Regions from separate parts of the Homo sapiens genome. Here region 1 is linked to region 2. Evidence: fine-mapped expression QTL. Tissue or cell type: blood mononuclear cells. Region 2 holds a variant in brackets; the other region holds the start of a gene. All regions are shown on one strand. Distances are between the middles of the regions.

Region 1 (8,226 bases), 480 kb after region 2:
CCTCTTCTTTCTCCATTTTCCATGGTCCTCTTCATGGCTGGCCTTTCAAAACACAGCCTGGAGAATAAAGCAGCTTCTCCCTGCTTCTGCATCTGCTACTATCTTGCTAATAGGTCCTTCTCTCACCTGTCCTTCTTCCACCTGGACAACTCCTACTCATTCCTAGAGGTTCAGCTCAGACACCCCCCTCTCTATAGTGGTTTCCCTGAGGGTGAGCCTTCTCAGTGAAGAGCAGCCAAAACTTACCCTGTAAAAGCACTTAATACACGGACATGCCCCACTCCACCTTTTTCCCTCCCCCTCACACACACCACACACTTGTGTGCTCCTCAAAGGCAGGGACCATGTACACCTCATCTTTGTACGCTCAGGGCCAAGCCAGTTTCTGGTTCACCGTAAGCAGGCTCCAACCCCGGGTTTTACCTGCTACCTGCCATTTTCTATCTCCCTGTCTTTTTTCTGCTTAATGCAGCAAATATCTGTGCTAAGGGGGCTACACAGTTCTTATGAGTTACACTCTACCCGTGTACAAAATCCCCATCATCCAGCATCTTCAGCATAGTTCTGAAATCAAATCCGATCTAACTCTTGCCCCATTCCCAATTAACCCAGACTGGCTCAACAGCAGGGTAAAGTCACACGTCACCACCAAGAAGCAAAAGTTCTGGGTTGTAATTTTGAACACATCCCTAATTAGCTATATGACCTTGGGCAAGGGTTAAAATAAAGGTGACAGCAGCAGCAGGCCTCATTCTCAGGGGACCTTTGAGATTCAAATGGAGTATCTGATTGGAAAGTGTTTTATAAAGTGCAAAGCACTGTACATTCATAAACGACATGATGAACAATTTTATCAGATTTAAGCCATCAACTATAAGATGTGCCATTACCAACTTAGGATGAAAAACAACTGCACAACTATGGTACATTGTAATAAGACAACCACATTTCAGTGATATTAAAATGTGAAAAAAGTGTGTTTTACAATTGATTCGATACAACGTATTTGTCTCAATAAAATACAGGAATCTGCTATAAAATTTTCATATTTGCCAATGGTACGTAATAGGTATTCAGTAACCTATGTCGAGTAAATGAACAAGAACCAATTGATAATATTATTTTTCTTGGGGGGGTGGGGCGCAGCAGAGGAAATGGAGTCTCACTCTGTCACCCAGGCTAGAGTGCAATGGTGCAATCTCGGCTCACTGCAACCTCCTCTTCCCAGGTTCAAGTGATTCTCCTGCCGCAGCCTCCCAAGCAGCTGGTACTACTACAGGCACATGCCACCACACCCGGCTAATTTTTGTATTTTTAGTAGAGACGGGGTTTCACGATGTTGGCCAGGCTGTCTTAAACTCCTGACCTCAGGTGATCCACCTGCCTCGAGCCTCCCAAAGTGCTGGCATTACAGGCTTGAGCCATCGTGCCAAGCCAATAATATTCTTAGGCCAAATTATTACCTCTCTCATTGGAATTGGGCAGCAGGGGGCTTCTCGATGCCAGTACCTCCCCTCTAAATCATGTCTCAGCCTGCTCAAAACCCTCAAATGATGAATTTAAGATATATCCAAACTCCTTAGCCTGGCATTTTTAAGCCCCTTTATAACCAAGTTTCCTCTCCCGTCCATCATTTCCTGGAACTGTCTTCACCAGAATGTGTCACTCTAAGAAAGATCCTACTCAAGTCCCAGCCACAGCAATCAGCTCATCAGCTCAGCTTCTCCTCCCTCTGCGTACACTCAAAACCAACTCTAGACCCATGCTGCTTACAGAGAGCCTGCCTCTGGGGGGACTGCCAGACCCTAAGGCCCCAGGCTTTTACCCCTACCATTCAGAATAGGTAATCCCCTCTGGAGCCTACATTCTAGACTATAAAGTTTTGGGTGTTGGGGTTGGGGCCTGCATTGTAGAAATTAAATGCAAAAATGCACACTCTCCTTTGTTTGTTGTTGTTGTTTTTTGTTTTTTTTGAGAGGCAGTCTCCCTCTGTCGCCCAGGCTAGAGTGCAGTGGTGTGATCTCAACTCACTGCAACCTCTGCCTCCCGGGTTCAAGCGATTCTCCTGCCTCAGCCTCCCGAGTAGCTGGGACTACAGTTCCCCGCCACCACACCCAGCTAATTTTTTGTATTTTTAGTAGAGACAGGGTTTTGCCATGTTGCCCAGGCTGGTTTCTAACTCCTGAGCTCAGGCAATCCGCCCGCCTTGGCCTCCCAAAGTGCTGGGATTACAGGCGTGAGCCACCGTGCCTGGCCCACACACTTTTTCCTTTAACTGCCCCCTGGTGCTGGCAGGAACTGTGCAAGCAGAAAAACTGGTGACGAAGTGGAGAAAACCATATTGGATGTCCTAACCCCCCACTGTCCACCATTATTGACCATAGGCTCTAGGTCTAGCACCCACCTTCGTGGACCTTTACCTATTCTTCTATCTATAAGAGTTGAGGAAGGGGGAGGATGGGAGAGGGAGCTAGATGCTTTGTAAAGGTGCCTAGCCACACTTTCCCCTTCTTCACTTTAGGCTTTCTTAAAATGCACATGTGCAGGGAAAGGTAAGCCATTAAGTCATCAACACCTTAGTGAGAGTGAATTTTACAGGAAAGGCAAGAGATTTAGTAAAAGGGGAAGGAATGGAAAGAGAAAGGGGACTGGAAACACAGTTAAGTGAGTTTGGTACTAGCAAAAGCCCCAGAGAAGACCCTGAGTTCTCGCTAGTTGTTTTGTGTTGGGGGAGGGAAAGCAGTGGATCCCTTCTAAGGGAAGGGAAGCCAGAGAGATTTTTCAGTTCTCCTACGACTCCGAGGTTCCAAAGACTCTGCCCTGTCCAAGCACCCAGGCACAATTCCACTGATTAGCTCATCTCATATCACAACCTCCCCCATCCCCAACCCCTTGCCTCCAACTAAAGAATATTTATACTTTCATCTCCATTTCCCACACTACTTAGTCTTCTCTGGCCCACGGTTCCCTCGAAGAGATGTCTTCCTCCAAGCCGCTAGCTGGCTTCAGGAAACTCCTCAACCTCCAAAAACCCCATTCAGTGCAGGACTCTCCAAAAGGCCGTCCCAGGGACCAGAAAATCAAACCCCCTCCCTGGAACTTCCTTTAACTTTGTCCACGCCTTTGCTCCAGCACTTAGCATTTTCTACCCTAGGCCAGGTTTGACTCCCAGGTTCAACTGAGTTCCTTGAGGGCAACGTCCAATACACCCAGCACAGGGTCTGCCACACACAGGGTGCTAGAGAAATGCTTAGAGAAAGGGAACTTAAGTCCGGAGCCAACTATTTGAATTATGGTCTGGCCTCTAGTAAATAACTTCCGGGCGACCCTCCTTCTCTCTGGGCCTCAGCTGCCCCAACTGTAAAATGGGAGGACTTGGAGGACTGGGTCTAGGCCCTTTCCGCTGTGACAACTGTGATTCCGCGAAAGCTCTAAGCGGATGGGCGTGGCCCCGCCCCCTGGGCGCCCAGAAAAGTCCGGGCAGGGGGCGCGCAAGGCTCCAACCCCGCCTAGCCTGGGGTCGACGCTTTTGGAAAAACTCTGGGTCCCCCTCCCCCATGGCGTGCACCCCGTGATTGGGCCGCGGCCGGCACTTCCGCACAGCGGGCCAGGCCAGAGCAGGGCGCGCGCCCTGCGCTCTTGCCACCCCGGAGGCGCTCGCGCCGGGGGAGGGCTGGGGGTTCCCGAGGCGCCCGCGGGTGGAGGGTGAGGGGAAGGAAGGATTTGCAACAATACCTCAGGGAGGAGGCAGCCGGGGCAGCGGCGGTGGTGGTGGCGGCGGCGGCGGCGGCGGCGGCGGCTGGAGGCGGAGGCAGAGGCAGAGGAGGAGGTGCCCGGGCACTCCCCCTCCCATTGTCCCCAGCCCCGGACAGGCCCGGCCCCGCGCCCCACACTGGCCTCCTCGAGCGCGCCGCCCGCGCCCAGCGCCCCACGCCCCGCGCCCCGGGCCGTGCAGCCAGCCCTTACCTTGCAGCGCCCGGCTGTCTCCCGATCGCTAAAGCTACTTATCCCGGGAAAGCTCGCGCGGGACCCGGGAACGAACCCACAGACAAAAAGTGAAACTTCGGCAGGGCTGGAGCGGCTGCTGGTTGGTGCCTTTCCCCCTCCTTCCTCCCCACCGTCCCCACCCCCTCCCCTTGGTCTCCCGTGCGGTGCCCTGAGCGCTGGAGGCTGACGTCAGGGGCCTGAATTCCTGACTTTGCCTGCACGCATTTGTCCATGTAAGGTATGGGAAGGCGTGTGCCCGCGAAGCCGCCGCGCAGAGCTCGCCTGGCGGGGGAGGGGAAACCCGCAGCCGGCAGTGGCTTTGCCAAAAGGTGGGCGCACTGAGGGCATTGCATTTCCTGGGAGGAAGAGGAGGAGACGCGGGAATGCAGGGAGCTTGCAAAGGAGGAAGAGAAAGAGGGAGATGTGGAGACTTTGCCCCTGCTAGAGGAAGAGGAAGGAGACGTAGGAGGAAGCGGCCGCGTCAGGGGGCTCCTGGAAAATGGAAAAGCCTGCGTCTACTATTAAGGCGTCAAATTAGGGCACTGAGCTTGAGTGGAAGAGATCCAGCCATGAAATCCCCTTCCAAGATTTTCCTCGTGAGCCCCGCCCTGGATTCCCAGCAAGACTCAAAACTTACAAGGTGTCAGAGCTGGCAAAGACCAACTTCCAACCCGTCCGCTTGGCACGTGAGGAAACTGAAGCTCTCGGAAGAGAAATGACTTGTACAGGGTCGTCACTCAGCAGATCGAGGAGCGGGCCCAGGCGCTCTGCCTCCCACTTGGGTTCCCGCCTCCAGGAAGGGCCCTGGCTCCCTTTTAGCCCTGAGCCTTGAAGCAGGTTAGATGCCCGCGAGCTGTGCGGACCACCCAGTGATTTCTACTGCTCTTGGCCCAGAGCCAGTTCCTGGAAGGTCCTGGTTGACAGCGAGCCCTGAATATCAATGACAATCAGTTGCTTCAGGGCAACTTCCTCTGTCCTGTGCTCAAATAAATGAATCCCTGGAGTTTAACGTTTACTTCTGAGCCCCGCCCAGAAAGCTTGCTCTGTGCTTATAGCTTCAAAAAAGTCTGCGAACGAGATGAACTGGTTTGAATACAGACAAGCCTGTCATTGGAAGTTTTGAGTTGGATTTTTCTTTCCCCTCTGACATCTGTAAGGGTGAACGACGATGAGAACCACCACTTAACTGTGTTAGGGGATTATGACGCGCAGCAGCCATGGCCAGGAAAGCATTCCATACCCTGAGACTTCCTTTCCTTGCACTTCTCTCCTATTAATATCTAAAGTAATCCCTCACGTTAGCACATAATGAAAGCAGTCTCTCACCCGGCTATTGCATCTTCAGGTGAGTTAGATAGGACAGAGCGTAGTCCCCCCTTTACACCTCAGACAAAAACTTAAGAAACGTTACTCGCCCAACACAAAACAACTGACTGACCAAGCACCTGTCTTCCCCTCCTCCCATCCAGGTCTCCTGACTAATCCCTTCATCTTTCCATACCTGGCCCTGACCTCTAGCAGGACCTAATTCCATTCATAACTGTTGAGAGTACACCATGAGCTACTGATTCATAAAAACTCCAAAAAGTGGTTCTTCTGAGGATGGACTTTAGTGGGATTCTTTTGACCAGGAATTAAGGAAATAATGTAAAAACACATGTTATTGGATTTATTAAGCACCTTCCTTGTGCTTAATAAGTGTTTGAATTCAGACATTTCAGGGGTAAGACTACTTAACCTCTGTGTTCCTCTCAACTATCTAATGTACACATACAAAAATATGAACATGGCTGGGCGCGGTGGCTTACACCTGTAATTCCAGCACTTTGGGACGCCGAGGCGGGCAAATCACCTGAGGTCAGGAGCTCGAGCCAGCCTGGCCAACATGGCAAAACCCCATCTCTACCAAAAATACAAAAAACTAGCTGGGCGTGGCGGCGAGCGCCTGTAATCCCAGGTATTCCGGAAGCTGAGGCAGGAGAATTGCCTGAACCCGGGAGGCAAAGGTTTTAGTGAGCCGAGATTGCGCCACTGCACTCCAGCCTGGGGGACAGAGCAAGACTGTTGTCAAAAAAAAAAAATATATATATATACAAACACATATATATACACATATATATACATATATACACATATATATACATATATATACACATATATATACATATATATATACACACACACATATATATATACACACATACATATATATATATGAAGGCAGTAACAGAGAGATAAGGTCGAGAATAACCACCCATTCCACAGACTAATAAAGAATTTATCTCTTTGCAACTAACATAGTTTGAAATGGGAGATACGGGCTCTTGGAGAGAGTTTTTTCTGGGGTTCTGAAAAGGTCAGATCCTATCAAAACACAATCCACTCACTCAAACATTTCAGCGTACTCACATTCTGAGTACTACTGTTTAGTATGAAAAGAATTCCAGTGTTACATGAAGTAAAAATGGATTATCTCAATCCTCATGGAATATAACGGGACTTGACCAGCATTTCCTTTTTTTTTTTCCTTCAGTAACTCACTTATAAGGAATAATAGGGTCCTAATGAGGATTAAGATTTAATAAGGTGTAATTAGAGTTGTTCATTTCTTCCATCATATACATTATAAGAGTACTGTGCCGGATCCAGAAATGCTACTAATTATGTTGAAACTGTTGTATGGGTGTGTTGGGGAAGTCACTGTGTTTCTCCTCCTGAAATGTTTATGAATTGCTCAGGTGAGCATGGTGAGCATGGTGTTAGCATGAACATCATATAAAGTTAACTACAAAAGATAATTCTGACTCATGAGGAACTTCCCAAGAGTACAACCACCCAAGTCATAATCTGGATGCTTAGTGAACTGCATACAGTGTTGTCGTCAGTGCTAACCCTACCAAAAGCCTCATTCCCATTTACTGTTCTGGTTTCTTTCGTACTCTTACTTTTCTCAACCTCCTGTTACAACTTTCTACGTGCAGGCGCTTGCGTGAAATGGAAAGGTTGTATGAATTTGCACTCAGTGGTAGAAAAATACTGGTTTACCAATTCAGAGGCTAAAACACAGAATTTCAGGTGTAGTGTGGGGTCGTTTGGGCCAAGGATAGCACACTGGTGGCCTAAAGGCTACCAGCAGCATTTTCATGGGTTCAGTAATGGCATAAAAGACTTTTAGGCAAGCTGGGCTTGGGTCCTGCCTTTCGTTTGCATCCATTACAGTCCTGTACACGTGGCCTTTGTGTAGCTCATGCCAGTCCTTATTTGGAGTTTTCATATACATTTCACTTAACTCTCACAAGACCCCTTCTGAGGTTGGCATTATTATTTTTTTATTTTATCCATGAAGAAACTAAAGCCCTAAAGCCCAGGGAGTTTAAGTACTAGCTCTGTGTTAAGAGCTGAGTAAGCTCATTTTTTTTTTTTTTTTTCTTTTTTTGAGGTGGAGTCTTGCTCTGTCGCCCAGGCTGGAGTGCAGTGACGTGATCTCTGCTCACTTCAAGCTCCACCTCCTGGGTTCACACCATTCTCCTGCCTCAGCCTCCTGAGTAGCTGGGACTACAGGCATTCGCCACCACGCCCGGCTAATTTTTTTTTTTTTTTTTTTTGTATTTTTAGTAGAGACGGGGGTTTCACCAGGTTAGCCAGGATGGTTCGATCTCCTGACCACGTGATCTGCCCTCCTCGGCCTCCCAAAGTGCTGGGATTACAGGCATGAGCCACTGCACCCGGCCCCAAGCTGAGTAAGCTCTTACTCAGCTGAGGGTAGGTAAGCTAAGATTCCACACTGATCCCTGGCAACCTGGCACCTTGCTCACCCACTGTTGAGTGACCATCTGCTCTCAGTTTGAACACTCAAGCGTAGGGAACTTATGATCTCCTACAGCTGAGCAAGAGGAAAAGTTCTGAAGAGGCTATTAGAAAAATAATAAGAATAAGAGGGCCATGGGTGATAGAAGGTAAATACCCATCTGCTGTTGCCTCTGAGAGCCTAAAACCTATCAGGCCAAATGCCTCTAGTATGGTTTGCACGGACCTTCATAATTTGGCACCTACTTGTCCCTTCAGCCTCATTTCTTCCAGGCCTTTATGTGCCCCCACCCTCCACCCTCCTTCTAGTAGTTTTCCAAGCACATCTTACCTCTCCCTGCTTATCTCTGTTTGCATATCTTCCCTTTTCCCTCGGGAGTCCTCAGCCTTCTCTTTCAGATAACTTCAAGTGACGGGGCCTGAATGCAAGCA
Region 2 (8,226 bases):
TTTTGTTAGCATGCCCCTCCTCACCCTATCTGACTTTATTTTAATATACTCATGCCATTAGAATATGTTATCTGGAAAAAAATCACTGTGGGAAGAAAAGATGAGCGTGTTCATTCACTGTAGACAGAGGACCAGGTTTTGTATAGTCTTTCTTATTGTTACTCCAAAGAATGTAGTTCACAGCCATTCTCATCGAGAGGTGTGCTAATACTGCTCACAGGAATGCTGTCTGCCACCAGTAAGCCTTACAATACCAGTTATGTAAGTAACTGGTTATTAATGCTTTTGCTTCTCAAATTACAGCAAGAAGAGTGATAGAAGCTTTGACAAAACAACACAACAGCATTTACATGGTCTGTGTAAAGAACTGTGTCTTAGCAGTGACGTGGGAGGTGACCCGGGTGGGTTCTGTTTAGACTGGTTGATGCCTGTGTGCTACCAGCATATGTGGTGAATTTTACTACACAGTTCCCTGTTCTCAAGTACTCATAGCCCAGTATGATAGTGACAACATATCTTGTTCAAGATTGAAGTAATCAACACATCTATATGACTTGGAAGAATCATTCAAAGACTGAACACTCAGATATCCCTACTGGTTCTGTCACTAGGTCACACTGGGTGATGGCTGGCCAACAACTTTCCTCAGATTGCATAAATAAGATAGTATGTTAGACTTTTCTCCCTCTGGGTCAAGGAAAGTTCAGAAAGAAGGCCATGCTTCTATGTCGTCTATGAGAGAGAGAAGAGCCACCAGAATAAACAAATAAGCAGGAAATGGGGGATGAGAAAAAAGATAATGAAAACGAACGTGGGGTAGAGTTGAGGGCTAGCAAGAGAGAAATGGAGGAAGACAAAAGGGGCGCTACAGAAGAACTACCAAATACAACTGAAGAATACCTTCCACTTGTCCGTAAGTGTTAGTATTGAAACGTAGAGTCTTAGTGAAAACAGTTAACGTAAGCCCTTTTCTGGTGACTTGGATAAAGCTTAATTCTTTCAGATGTTGTCACAGAAACAGCTTAAGGGGTTCCAGAACAGAAATGTGACTGGATGTTCTCAGCTTCAGCTGAGAGAGGACATTCTCCAAAGGAACTGAGGTGGCCACAAAACCAGAGTTTCTTTTAGTACATTTGCTTTGCCATTACCCAGGCCAAGTAACCAAAAAACTTTAACTGTTACAGATAGAGAATACATGTGATAGAAGTCCCACCATGTGCAGCACCAGCACACTGGAATGCCTTTCCATCTCCCAGTCTCCCCACCCAGGCCCTATCCTACCGGTCCTATAGGTTAGATCAAATGCTACTTCCTCATAAAGGTTTTCCTGAACATTCAGCTGAAGGTGGCCTTTAAATCACCAGGATAGCTAGTAGATTTTATTTGTAACCACTTAGGTTACCCATTACTTTCTATGCAGTGCTGTAGACATCAGCATATGTATCTTATTCTTCAACATGGGGTCTAGAATATAGTATACACTAAATAAATGTTTGAGGAAAAGACAGAGGTAAGGAGAGAGGGAGGGAAAAAAGGAAAGGAATAACTATTTCTGAGGAAGTATCCAGAGTAAAATAAATACTTTTAAATAAACATGCTTTGACGAGGAAGGAAATGAAGCTTCAGGGGCCCTCATGTACACTGGCCCCTACTAAGGTCTTGGGAGGGGACCAAGCTGTATGTTCACTATGGTTCTTCTACTCTGTCTTCTGTGTACGCTCATGTAGGGAAATGTTAGAATCAACATGTGACCTTTGAGATTGGTTAAGAAAGGTTGAGTCAGGGAGACATTTAGCTGAGTGTCATGGGATATATTTACATGGTCTGCAGTCACTATGGTGTGTGCTTAAGTCATCACCCATCGTCATTGTATAGGAATGAGTTCCTGGAATGCTTCAATGTGCCTGGGCCCATTACTGTCCTAGCTCTGTGACACAGATTTGTGGGACCAGAAGTCACGTGTCATTAATGTGTCCTATAACACCCAGCATGGAAATTAGACTAGTAGAGGAGACAAACAGGAGTAAAATGCATAGAGACAGAAATTGAGTCTGCTGGAAATTCAACCAATAGTCAGATGTGTAAAAGTATACATGTGGAGTACTACTTGGTTTTCGATGATGCAAATGGAGATACTTTCTCTTTAGGAATGTGCTTAGTAATGCACTGAACACAATTATAAATGCACGGCTGACTTGATTTTTCTTTTTGATGCTAATTGCACAAAATAGAACTCATCAGCTATGAATCTGCAGTAAGAGTAAGGGTGTTGTAATAGCTCACAAATAAAAGAAACTTAATAGGAGTGTCCCCAAATTTGATTATCTTAAATTTCAAACAACAATACTAATAAAAGTTGTGCAGATTAAAGGCAGTTTTCCAAACTTTTAAAAACTATAATAATAAAAAATGTTTATCACTCAGGCTAGAAGAAAGATAATTTTTTTTCTAAGTATAAACATTATTTTCTTTCTTTTTCAACTTTTATTTTTGTTTCAGGGGATACATGTGCAGGTTTGTTACATCAGTAAGTTGTGTGTCCCAGGGGTTTGGTGTACAAACTATTTCATCACCCAGGTAGTGATCACAGTACCCAATAGATAGTTTTTCGACCCTCACCCTTCTCCTAGCCTCTACACCAAGTATGTCCTAGTGTCTATTGTTCCCCTCTTGGTGACCATGTGTATTCAGTGTTTAGCTCCCACTTACAAGTGAAAACATGTGGTATTTGGTTTTCCGTTCATGTTAGTTTGCTAAGAATAATGGCCTCCAGCTCCATCCATGTCCCTGCAAAGGACATGATCTCGCTCTTTTCATGGCTGCACAGTATTCCATGGTGCATACATACCATATTTTCTTTACCCAGTCTATTATTGATGGGCATTTAGGTTGATCCCAGGTCTTTGCTATTTTGAATAGTGCTGCAATGAACATACAAGTGCATTTGTCTTTTCATTAGGTTTCTGCCATTACTTTTAATGGCAGAAACCACAATTACTTTTGCACCAACTTAATAGAACAATTTATATTCCTTTAGGTATATACCCAGTAATGGGATTGCTAGGTCAAATGGTAGTTCTAGTTTACATTCTTTGAGAAATCCCTGAACTGCTTTCCACAGTGAGACTGAACTAATTTACATTCCCAACAGGAGTGCACAAGCATTCCCTTTTCACCACAACCTTGCCAACATCTATTAATTTTGACTTTTTAATAATAGCCATTCTGAGTGGTGTCAGAAGGAATCTCATTGTGTTTTTGATTTGCATTTGTCTAATGATTACTGATGTTGAGCATTTTTTCATATGCTTGTTGGTTAATTGCACATCTTTTAGAAATGTCTGTTCATGTCCTTTGCCCATTTTTAAATGGGGATGCTTTTTGCTTGCTGATTTGTTTGAGTTCCATATAGATTCTCAATATCAGACTTCTGTCAGATGCATAGTTTGCAAATATTTTCTCTCTTTCTATAGGCTGTCTGTTTACTCTGTTGATAGTTTGTTTTGCTGTGCTGCAGAAGCTCTTTAATTAGGTCTCACTTGTCAATTTTTGTTTTTGTTGCAATTGCTTTCGGAGACCTCATATGAAATTTTTGCCAAGGCCTAGAATAGTATTTCTAGAATATAATTTCCTAGGTTTTCTTCTAAGATTTTTATAGATTTAGGTCTTACGTTTAAGTCTTTTAATCCATCTTGAGTTGACAAATGTTGACTATCAATGGTTGTAGGTGTGCAGCATGATTACTAGGTTTCTCTAGCTTCTTTCATTGGTTTATGTGTCTGTTTTTGTCCCAGTACCATGAAGTTTTAGTTACTGCAGTCTTGCAGTTTAATTTGAAGTCAGGTACTGTGATGACTCTGGCTTTGTCCTTTCTGCTTAGCATTGTTTTGCCTATTTGGGCTCTTTGTGGTTCCATATGAATTTTACAATATTTTTTTTTTCTAATTCTGTGAAAGATAATATTGGTAGTTTGACAGGAATATCACTGAATCTATAAATTGCTTCGGCCAGTATGACTGCCCCAAATTTTAACAATATTGATTTTTTTCCTATCTATGAACATGAAATGATTTTCCATATATTTGTTTCATCTCTGATTTATTTCAGCTGTGTTTTATAATTCTCATTATAGAGATCTTTCACCTCCCTGGTTAGCTGTATTCCTAGGTATCTTATTCTTTCTGTGGCTACTGTGAATGGGATTGTGTTCCTGATTTGGGTCTCAGTTTGGACATTATTGGTATATAGAAAGGCAACTGATTTTTGTGCACTGATTTTCTGTCTAGAACTTTGCTGAAGTTGTTTATCAGATCAAGGAGCTTTTAGGCAGAGTCTATGGGGTTTTCTAGGTATAC[A/C]ATGACATCATCTGCAAACAGAAATAGTTTGACTTTCTCTCTTTCTATTTGGAGCTCTAGAATTTCCAGTACTATGTTGAATAGGAGTGGTGGAAGTGGGCATCCTTGTCTTGTTCCAGTTCTCAAGGGGAGTGCTTCCAGCTTTTCCTGTTCAGTATGATGCAGGCTGAGGGTTTGACATAGATGGTTCTTATTATTTTGAAGTATGTTCCTTCAATTTCAAGTTGTTGAGGGTTTTTAACATGAAGCGATGTTGAATTTTACCAAAACCCTTTTTTGCATCTGTTGAGATGACCATGTGGTTTTTTGTCTTTAGTTCTTTTATGTGATGAATCACATTCATTGATTTGTGTATGGTGAACCAATTTTGCAACCTATGGCTAAAGCCTATTTGATTGGGTTGAATTAGCTCTTTGATGTGCTGCTGGATTCAATTTGCTAGTATTTTGTTGAAGATTTTTGTGTCTATGTTCATCAAGGATATTGGCCTGAAGTTTTCACTTTTGGTTGTTCTATCTCTGTCAGGTTTTGGTATCAGAATGATGCTGGCGTTATAGAATGATTGAGGGAGGAGTCCCTCCTCCTCGATTTTTGGAAGCTATTTAGTACGATTGGTACCAGCAAGTCTTATTACATCTGGTAGAATTCAGCTGGGAATCCATCTGGTCTATCCAGAACTTTTACTGGTTGGTAGGTTTTTTATAACTGATTCAATTTTGGAACTCATTATTGGTCTATTCAGGATTTTAATGTCTTCCTGCTTCAATCTTGTGAGGTTTTATGTTTCCAGGAATTTATTCATTTCTTCTAGGTTTTCTAATGTATGTCTGCAGTGCTGTTCATAAGAGTCGCTGAGGGTTTTTTGTATTGCTGTGGGGTTGGTGGTAATGTACCCTTTGTCATTTCAGAGTGTGTTTATTTGGTTCTCTTTGTTTGTTCTTTATTAATCTAGCTAGTAGTCTGACAATCTTATTTATTCTTGCAAAAAAAAACAGCTTTTGGTTTTAGTGATCTTTTGTATGGTTTTCATATCAGAATTTTGTTCAGTTCAGCTCTGATTTTAACTATTTATTTTCTTCTATCAACTTTGGAATTAGTTTGGTCTTGTTTTTCTAGTTCCTCTAGGTGTGATGTTAGGTTGTTGAGATTTTTCTAACTTACAGATGTAGGTGTTTGTCTCTACAAACATTTTTCTTAATACTGCTTTAGCTGTGTTCTCTGGTATGTTGTATCTGTTTTCATTAGTTTCAAAGGATTTTTTTTATTTCTGCCTTAATTTCATTCTTTACTCAAAAGTCATTCAGGAACAAGTTGTTTAATTTCCATGTAATTGCATGGTTTTGAGAGATCTTAGTATTGATTTATATTTTTATTGCACTGTGGTCTGAGAATGTGGTTGGTATGATGTCAGTTATTTTGAATTCTTTGAGAATTGCTTTATGAATGGGTGTGTAGTCAATCTTAGAGTATGTGTCATGTGCAGATGAGAAGAATGTTTATTCTGTTGTTGTTGGGTGAAATATTCTGTAGATGTCTCATAGGTCCATTTGGTCAAGTGTTGGGTCCCAAATATCTTTGTTGGTTTTCTGCTTTAGTGATCTCTCTAGAAATGTCAGTGGAGTGTTCAAGTCTCCCACTATTGTAGTTCTCTAATAACCTGTTTTATAAATCTGGGTGCTCCCTTATTGGGTGCATACATACTTAGAACTGTTAAGTCTTCTTGTTGAATTGAACCCTTTATCATTATGTAATGCCCTTTTTTTGTCCTTTTGAATCATTGTTGGTTTACAGTCTGTTTTTTCTGAAATAGAATAGCAACCTCTGCTTTATTTTGTTTTCCATTTGCTTGATAGAGCTTTCTCCATCCCTTTATTCTGAGCCTAAAGGTGTCACTGCATGTGAGATGGGACTCTGGAAAACAGCATAGAGTTGGGCCTTGCTCCTTCATCCAATTTGACACTCGGTGTCCTTTAAGTGGGGCATTTAGCCCACATAAATTCAAGATTAATACTGATATATAAGCATTTGATCTTGCCATCATGTTGTTACCTGGTTCTTATGTAGACTTGATAGTATAGTTGCTTTATAGTGTTAGCAGGCTATGTACTTAAAGGTGTCCTTGTAGAAGTAGGTAACAGTCTTTCATGCTTATCATTCCCTTAAGGACCTGTTGTAAGGCAGGACTGGTAGTAATAAACTCTCAGCATGAAATTATCTTTGTATTCTCTCTGCAGAAAATATTATGAAATTAGGTTGTACAGTTAGTTAATCAATGAATATGCTGCTAAAAATGTAAGAAAAAGTAATCAGGAATTTAATTCATAAGAGTGTTATTTTTCAAGATTTTTGTGATTTTTGAGGTATTTCATAGCTTTTATTAATGTGATTTTTGAGGTATTTCATAGCTTTTATTAATTTATAACATGTTGCATTTCCTCTGTCATTTAAAATAAATGTTCATTTGCCTACATAATTGTTATGAGCTGAGTCATGTCTCCCTTCAAATTAATATGTTGAAGTCCTAACCCCTAGTATATCAGATTGTGACTGTATTTGGAGAAAGGGCCTTTAAAGAGGCCATTAAGTTAAAATGAGAGCACTAGGGTGGACCTTAATCCAATACGACTGGAGTTGTCCTTATAAAAAGAGGGACTAGGACACAGAGAAGCAGAGGAAAGACCATGTGAGGACACAGAGAGAAGGTGGCCATTTTTATCCAAGGAGAAAGCTCTTAGAGGAAAGCAACCTTGTGAGTACCTTGATCTCAGACTTCTAGCCTCTAGAATTGTGAGGAAAAAAAAATCTGTAGTTTATGTCACTCAGTTTGTGGTACAGTTGTCCCTTCATATCTGCAGGGGATCAGTTCTAGGACTCCATGCAGATGCCAAACTCTATGGATGCTCAAATCCCTTATATATATGATATGCTATACACGTAACCTACACATATCCTCTTACATAGTTTAAATCATCTCTAGATTAGTTAAAATACCCAATACAATGTAAATGCTAGGTAAATACTTGTTATATTGTATTTTGAAATTTGTAGTATTTTCTAATATTTTATTGTTACTTGTTATTTTTTACAAACACTTTCCATTGGCAGTTGGTTGAATTCTGAATGCAGCCTACTTGAATATGAAGGCCTGACTGTATTTTGTTATAGCAGTCCTACCGAAATAATATAATACTTTTATGCATACAGAAGTTATTTCCACAGTGATAAGCTTCAAAGCTTCAGGTTTCATAAAATGTGAATATATCTTAACACACACACACACATACTTATAAATTAATCTCACTGCTCATTATTGAGAGTATTAACTAAAATAGGTAAGGCCCATTCGGTTTGTTAGAAATCCTTTATTTTTGCACATACATTTTTACAAATGCTTTCCATTTAACAGCCATTTACATCATAACTACCAAATGGTTAACAGACTTGAATCATTTAATCACAACATTTATTTGGCTTCTGAAATATGTGCAACCTTATCATCTATGGAGTCACTGTCTGCAGACACTTCTTGGATGGAATACTAAGTAATACCTAAATATTAGTCCAGGTCTCTTATTCAGTTTCCTGTTTAATGAATTTCATGTTTATCAATCTAAATGTTAAGCAACTGGAAATGGGCATTCTATAGGCAGAAAAGTTGGAAACTATGATTTCAAGTTCCACATATTTCATATTGTTGATTCTGTATATAAGGGACAAAGATTCAATGATCTATATAGTATGAAAAATTGGAAAACTGACTTGCCTTCTCCGAAATGTTTCATCATCTGTAAAAGAGGATGAATATGCATTATCTCATCATCTCAGTGAGTTCTTTTTTGAGGACCAAATTCACAATGGTTATAAAAATGTG

What was found. PIP is the estimated chance that this variant, and not a neighbour inherited with it, causes the effect.
Region 1: it holds the start of LPP, and the variant in region 2 is fine-mapped to the expression of LPP in blood mononuclear cells (TOPMed, PIP 0.92).

Annotation. Positions count from the first base shown.
Region 1 is chr3:188,149,762-188,157,987 of GRCh38, reverse strand. LPP (LIM domain containing preferred translocation partner in lipoma) reads right to left here and starts at 3,831. Exons shown (of 12, transcript NM_001375462.1): 1 at 3,736-3,831. It overlaps LPP-AS2 (LPP antisense RNA 2), which reads left to right and starts at 3,900. Exons shown (of 1, transcript NR_036497.1): 1 at 3,900-6,782. RefSeq lists enhancers at 1,698-2,596, 4,396-5,296 and a silencer at 3,624-3,963.
Region 2 is chr3:188,625,435-188,633,660 of GRCh38, reverse strand. The region is part of intron 7 of LPP (LIM domain containing preferred translocation partner in lipoma); the gene reads right to left. All of the region lies in intron 2 of LOC124906316 (a long non-coding RNA gene), which reads left to right. Among named protein-coding and RNA genes, the nearest start is that of MIR28, 59 kb to the left of the region's middle. The variant A/C (reference allele first, on the strand shown) is at 4,356.